Linked DNA regions of Homo sapiens. The protein of the gene in region 2 interacts with the protein of the main gene of each other region in a pairwise test. Each region holds a gene or a part of one and is shown on either strand. Other genes may lie near its edges.

Evidence for each region.
Region 1: the proteins of POP4 (region 2) and RPP14 interact in binary tests that used the Homo sapiens proteins (3 or more experiments, as listed by UniProt).

The regions. Positions count from the first base shown.
Region 1 is NC_000003.12:58,312,621-58,316,437, reverse strand, and holds part of RPP14 (ribonuclease P protein subunit p14), read right to left. Parts: intron 717-3,817; exon of another isoform or gene 619-716; intron 1-618. UniProt on the Homo sapiens protein: Component of ribonuclease P, a ribonucleoprotein complex that generates mature tRNA molecules by cleaving their 5'-ends.
Region 2 is NC_000019.10:29,612,502-29,616,318, reverse strand, and holds part of POP4 (ribonuclease P protein subunit p29), read right to left. Parts: intron 2,449-3,817; coding exon 2,347-2,448; intron 1,076-2,346; coding exon 939-1,075; 3' UTR 1-938. UniProt on the Homo sapiens protein: Component of ribonuclease P, a ribonucleoprotein complex that generates mature tRNA molecules by cleaving their 5'-ends.

The DNA.
Region 1 (3,817 bases), on a different chromosome or scaffold from region 2:
AGTTTTGAGCTTTTCTCCTCCACATAAGCAGTATTTTATTTAATGGTGCTGGCACTTTAGTTGCCTACTTACAGCTCCCCCTGCCTAGAATGTTCTGCCTACACCTCTTCATATGGCTGATGTCTCTCATCCTTTGAGCCTTCATTTAAATTGTTCCTTGACTGATCTTCAAGATGAGACAAAGTCAGCTTGCTATGTTCTTTCTTGTACAGGACACCATACTTTCTCTTTCATAATTCCCTTTATTCTTGTCACTAATTGTCCAACATGTTTTCCTACTACAAGAACCAAGACATTAGTCCATGTGGCAGAGGCCATGTCTGTTTGTTTGCAGCTATATAAACCCCAGGAACGAGGTTTTCTACCTGACACACAGGTACACACAGGGATATTTTTTTTTAAAATTTTGTATTTAAAAAAATTATAGACTCACAAGAGATCACAAAGAAATGTACAGGGATTGGCCGGGCACAGTGGCTCACGCCTGTAATCCCGGCACTTTGGGAGGCCAAGGAGGGCGGATCACCTGAGGTTGGGAGTTTGAGACCAGCCTGATCAACACGGAGAAACCCCATTTTTACTAAAAATACAAAATTAGCCGGGTGTGGTGGCACATGCCTGTAATCCCAGCTACTTGCGAGGCTGAGGCAGGAGAATCGCTTGAACCTGGGAGGCGGAGGGTGCGGTGAGCCAAGATCGTGCCATTGCACTCCAGCCTGGGCAAGAAGAGCGAAACTCTGTTTCAAAAATAAATAAATAAATAAAAAAGAAATGTACAGGGAGGTTCATGCACTCTTCATCCAGCCTCCCACAATGTCAATGTCTTGCGTAACTACAGTACAGTAGCAAAACTACAAAACTGGTATTGGTACAAACCAGAGGTTATTCAGATTTTACCAATTGTATGTCTACTCCTATTTATACCTGTGTGTGGCTCTATGTAATTTTCCCACATAGGTAGCTTCATATAACTACCACCACAATCAATGATAAAGAACTGTACCATCATAAGACTCCCTTATTCTACCCTTTACAGCCACACCCACCCCTCCTCCCCTACTCCTCACCCCAGCAACCACTAACCTTTCTCCAGATTATATATAGTATTTCAAGAGTCTTCTATAAATGGAAACACCCAGTATGTCATGTTTTGGGATTGGCTTTTTTTCGCTCAGCATAATTCTCTGGAGATTCATTCATATTGTGTCTAAATAGGTCATTCCTTTTCACTGTCGAGTATATTCCATAGTAGGAATGTACCACAGTTTATTCACCCATTGAAGGATATATGGGGTGTTTTCAGTTTCATTGTTATTAAAAATAAAGCTGCTATGAATATTCATGTACAGGCTTTTGTGTGAACTTAAGTTTTCAGTCCTCTGGAACAGATGCCCAGGAGTGCTAATGCTGGGTTCTATGGCAGATGCACGTTTAGTTTGTTAAAGATACTGCTGGCCAGGCATGGTGGCTCACACCTGTAATCCCAGCACTTTGGGAGGCCAAGGCAGGCGGATCACAAGGTCAAGAGATTGAGACCATCCTGGTCAACATGGTGAAACCCCGTCTCCACTAAAAATACAAAAAAATTAGCTGGGTGTGGTGGTGTGTGCCTGTAGTCCTAGCTACTTGGGAGGCTGAGACAGGAGAATCGCCTGAACCTGGGAGGCGGAGGTTGCAGTGAGCCAAGATTGTGCCACTGCACTCCAGCCCGGTGACAGAACGAGACTCCATCTCAACAAAAAAAAAAAAAAAAAAAAAAAAATACTGCCAAACTATGTTCCAGAGTGGCTGCACCATTTTACATACTCACTGTAGTGTATGAGTGATCTAGTTTCTTTGCATTCTTGCTAGCACTTAGTGTTGTCATTTTTTATTTCAGTCATTCTGCTAGGTACACAGTGGTATCTCATTGTGTCATTAATGTGCATTTCCCTAATGGCTAATGTTAAACATCTTTCCATGTGCTTCTTTGCCAACCACACATTCTCTTTAGCAAAATGTCTGTTAATGTTTTTGCCCATTTTCTAATTGAATTGTTTGGTTGAGTTCTGATACTTCTTTTTTATTATTATTACTATTATTTTTTTGAGACAGAGTCTCTCTCTGTCACCCTGGCTGGAGTGCAGTGGTGTGATCTCAGCTCACTGCAACCTCCGCCTCCCAGGTTCAAGTGGTTCTCCTGCCTTAACCTCCCGAGTAGCTGGGGTTACAGGCATGTGCCACCACGCCCGGCTAGTTTTTATAGCTTTAGCAGAGACAGGGTTTTGCCATGTTGGCCAGGATGGTCTCAAACTCCTGACCTCAGGCAATCAACCCACCTCGGCCTCCCAAAGTGCTGGGATTACAGGCATGAGCCACCACGCCCCATGTGTTATTATTTTTGAGACATGGTCTTGTTCTGTTGACCAGGCTGCAGTGCAGTAGTGCAATCATAGTTTACCACAGCCAGCCTCAAACTCCTGGCCTCAAGCAATCTTCCTGCCCTGGCTTCCCAAAGTGTTGGGATTACGGGCATGAGCCACTGCACCAGGCCAAATGTCATTTATATATTCTAGACACTATAGTCCTTTGTTGGATACGTGGTTTACAAATATTTTCCCCCAGTGTGTAATTCATCTTTTCATCCTTTCCCACCCCTACCCCCAGCCATGGAGGTGTGATCACCACTCATTGCAACCTTGAGCTCTTGGGCTCAAGCAATCCTCCCACCTCAGCCTCCTGACTAGTTGGGACTATCAGTGCACACCACCACACCCAGCTCAATTTTTCAAATTGTTTTGTAGAGATGGGGTTTCACCAGATACCCAGGCTGGCCTGGAACTCCTGGGCTCAAGTGATCCACCCGCTTGGCCTCTCAAAAGTGGTGGGATTACAGCTGTGAGCCACTGCACCTGGCCCTTTCATCCTCTTAAGAGTCTTTTGCAGAGTAAAAGTTTTAAATTTTGATGAGGTACTTAGCATATTTTGATTTGACAGACTATATGAATCACAAAATAATTTCCTGAGCATCCTGTCTTCTTTCAACTTCTGAAACTCTACTTCTCTACTTCTGTTCTCAAAGTTGCTTAAAATGCTGGTCTATGACAAAATAATGAGTTGAATCAGAATATAAACCAATAGTATCATTAATCACCATGTTTAGTTCAGTTCATCTTTTTTTCATGAGGAGCCTTTTTTTTGAGACCGAGTCTCGCTCTGTCGCCCAGGCTGGAGTGCAGTGGCGTGATCTCGGCTCACTGCAAGCTCCACCTCCCGGGTTCATGCCATTCTCCTGCCTCAGCCTCCCGAGTAGCTGGGACTACAGGTGCCCGCCGCTGCGCCCGGCTTTTTGTGTTTTTAGTAGAGACAGGGTTTCACCGTGTTAGCCAGGATGGTCTTGATCGGCTGACCTTGGGATCTGCCTGCCTTGGCCTCCCAAAGTGCTAGGATTACAGGCGTGAGCTACCGTGCCCAGCCCTTTTTTTTTTTTTTTTTTTTGAGACAGAGTCTTGCTCTGTTGCCCAGGCTGGAATGCAGTGGCGTGATCTCTGCTCACTGCAACCTCTGCCTCCCAGGTTCAAGCAATTCTCCTGCCTCAGTCTTCCAAGTAGCTGGGACTACAAGCGTGCGCCACCATGCCCAGCTAATTTTTGTATTTTCAGTAGAGAAAGCGTTTCACCACGTTGGCCAGGCTAGTCTCAAACTCCTGACTGTAAGTGATCTGCTCATCTCAGCCTCCCGAAGAGCTGGGATTATAGGAGTGAGCCACTGCGCCTGGCCCATAAGGAGACTTTCTCATTAAAAGTGGTTCTGCTGCAAATTCCTTATCTCTTCAAGA
Region 2 (3,817 bases):
CTGGGCCCGCTTTTCCTCTGGCCCTGCATGGAAGGGCCTGACCCACTGGCTTTACAGACACATGGTCACAGAGGGCCAGGGTCAGACTGAAAAGCCAAGTCTTTCAGCAGCAAAAATGGCGAAGATATCAAAGGGCGTCAATGCTGCTGGCTTGGCTTTTGCAGCAGGTCTCACCTCGGGAGGTGATGCCGGGCGACCTCCTTTCAGTCCTCCATGGCTCAGCCTGGCAGCTCAGGAGTGGGCATGCTGCGGCAGGTCCCATCTCACTACGCTGGGGCAACCATGCATGGGCACAGCTGCATGCAGTACTCTGCTCCTGGGGTCCACCCCAGCTATGATTCCTGAAGTGAATAAACCCTAAGTCACTTAGCAACTCACCCTTCAATCCTCTTCAACCTTCCTGAAATAGCAAAGTAAACCTTAGGTGGGTCAGAGTTCCACCCAAAGGCGAGCCTCTGTAGACACCTGCCATCCAATGGACCTTTGGGGACCCCCCTTCCCTTTCAACCTGGCTGGACTGCAGCAATACCTCCTTTATTTGATCCCTGTTTATGTCCACATATGTACTGTATTATCACAGATGCAACTGATTTATCATAGAGCACTCAGAAAACATGGAAAAGTATTTTTAAAAATCGAATAATCCTATTCAAGTCAACCAGTGTTAACCCCGGTGTGCTTCCTGCCAGTCTGTTCCTCCCCATGGGAGTCACACAAAATGAAAATCTCCTAGAAAGAGAAATTCCTCTGTCCTCTGACTTCTTCACTTAGTACGCTGCGACCTTCCCATGTTGTTCAACATCCTCAACTCGGAGCGTCACTGGCTGGAGGTGGTCTATAAATGGAATTGGCTTAACTATCTCTTCACTGAAAGGTGGACATTTAGGGAGTGTCCAGTTTTCAGCTGTCATAAACAACTGCCTTAGACGGCAAAGAATTCACAGGTCAATCGTTCCCTTCGCTTTGAACTTCTTCGCAGACCGTTCACTTGACCGAAGCTGGAATTTGCTCCCGTAAATGTAGGAAATAAAGCCATCGGTTTCCACAGTGAACACGCAGTTTAGCTTGGGGATAACTGAAAAAAAAAAAAAAAAAGGCAGGAGAAAAAAAGATGAGGAAAAATATTTATTAATATTTTACTTTTAGGTAGAATATTATTCAGAACACATTGAATGAAAAAAATAAGCTAATAGGAAACGGGAAACCCACAAGGGGAGGGGCATTAGGGTTGCCTGTGGTTATTCTGCCACAGGTCAATCTAGTCACATGCTAAATGTAGCTTGGCACCTAATCTTCAGGGTCAAAGGCTATACACCAAATTCCCAGAACCAGAAAGTCCCAGAACACCTGCCAGAAACTGGTTTTCCCACATTAACTTTCAGATGGGCTCCTGGCCTTATGCTCTGTGGAGAAACTATTACACCACTTTCCGAGGTTTACAATGTGAGGTAGAAGGATATGTAGGAAAATAAGGGAAGCAACAAGAAAAACCAAGCTCAAAAATTAAAGGAAGAAGGCTGGGCGCGGTGGCTCACACCTATAATCCCAGCACTTTAGGAGGCTGAGGCAGGTGAATTACTTGAGTTCAGGAGTTTGAGACCAGCCTGTCCAACATGGTGAAACCCTGCCTCTACTAAAAATACAAAAATTAGCCGGGCGTGGTGGCGCGTGCCTGTAATCCCAGCTACTTGGGAGGCTGAGGCAGAAGAATCCCTTGAATCCGGGAGTGGAGGCTGCAGTGAGTCGAGATTGTGCCACTGCACTCCAGCCTGGGTGGAAGAGTGAGACTGTCTCCAAAAAAAAAAAAAAGAAAAATTAAAGGAACAAAACCTTCTAACTATGGTTTGATATCTCTGGATTTGTGGGTAAGGCGGGGTGTAGAAATCCTGGCTGACCCAAAGTATCTGCTAGAGCAATGCTGGCCACGGATGGAACCCAAGTGTTATCGCCAAGGACACAGCTCAGAACTCCAGGGACAGGCGCCACTCCTGTTTCTACCCTGCTGCCTGTTTGGCTACATTCCTCTGGGAGCAGCAGCCTTTGGGGCAGGTGGAGGCCCTCTCCTGGGGCCTAAACAGACCCAGGTCCCCTGAGGCACAGCCGAGCAGGTCTTCCTTCCCCTTGGCCATTTCTGGCCGGGGTTGCAGGCTGCACTGACACACACCTCTTGGGGGAGCCACGGGTGCAGGGGATGGTCTCTGCAGGCTTTAATGCAGGTTCAGCAAGTATCTGCAATCTGCGCTGACTTGAGGGGTCAAATCAAACTCTTGGAGCCTTGAGGAAAAGGCTAACGCAGTAGCTGGGAGCCACAGCCCGCAAGCAATGCCCTCAGAAACACCTACATACCTTTCAGGCGGTCTTCTTTGGTGATAATTTTGAAAATGTGCTTTGTTTCCTGTAGAAGGATTCCTGTAATACCCACATAAGAGGGGCATTTGGATTTTGTCACTGCAAAGAAAAAGGACAGTTCCAGGCTCAGGCCTCTGTGGTGCTGGGGGAACCACAGAGAAGCAGGCCTCAGGGGTTGGGGGTGCTGATCCCACCCTCTGAGCTAGCAGATGAAAGAACAGAGCACCCAGGGGGTGGGGGCTCAACAGCTGGGCCCTGATGTAACCAACAAGAATCCAGGCTTCCCCTGGGGCTTTGCAGCCTCTGGACTGTTCCTATGAGGTGTCCTTCGGAGGGTCTGTGGCCACAGGGGTCTTGGGCAGGATTCTGGAATTAAAGGTCACATATGTGCCCAGCACCATCAGGGCCCACGGGCTGGCTGCTCTGATGCAGCCAGGTCTCCCTTGCAGGATCTGCACAAACACCACCATGCACTGCCCAGGATGCTGGCTGGAACGTGAGTGTGGCTGCAGAGCTGCCCAGCAGCCAGCACTGCGAGATGAGCCACCATCACAAGCAGCAGCCCCTCCCTCGTCCTGACCCGAGCCTCAGTGTAGCGGACAGAGTCACCAAGCAGCTGTGGAATGCCTGCACCATCCTCAGGAGATGCCAGGGACACAGCACGGAAAGAGGCGGTCCTGGATCCTACTCTCACGGAGCCCGGGTTCTAGCAAGGCAGGGTGATGCACGGTGAACCACACCATTCTACTTTCTGACAGCAACGAGTGCTATGAAGAGTAGGGACAGGGCAATGTGTGGAGGGTCATGGTTTGCAATGGTAGACCCTGAGGGGAGTGGCATTGGAGCAGGGCTGAACAATGAGAAGCTGGACTGTGCACACACAGGAGAACTCCCGGGTAGAGGTAAGGAGCAGAGGCGAAGCCCTGAGGCAGGGCAGGAGGAAGGCAGTGTGGGAGGCCTGCTGCCCCAGGGAGCGGGGAGGCCTTAGACCACAGCAAGGAGGCAGGTTTACTCCCATACGATGGGACGCTGCCAGAAGACTTGAAGCAGGGAAGGAACGTGCTCTGATTTCTACGTAACCGGCACTCTGGCTGCCTGGTGCGGTGAGGAGCTGTGTCTGAGGTAATCTGGGGAATGACAGTGGCTGAATTTAAGTAGTAGGATGTTCCGAAGGATTCGAGGAGATTAGGAAAGAAGAAACATAGACACTGTTTAGGTTTTTGGTCTGAACAACCAGTGTAAATAACTGAGTAATTAACTGAGATGGAAAAGACCAGGAGGGGTTGCTGTGAGGAGAATCGGTGGCAGCTTTGGCTATGTAAAGTCTGAGATGCCCCCTGAACATCCAGGTGGCTATGTCAAGTGGGCAGCTGGATGCCTGAGCCTGGAGTTCAGGGGACAGGCCTACGCTGGAGATGTCACCTTGGGGGCTGTCAGGTGTAGCTGACATTTGAAACCACAGCATTGG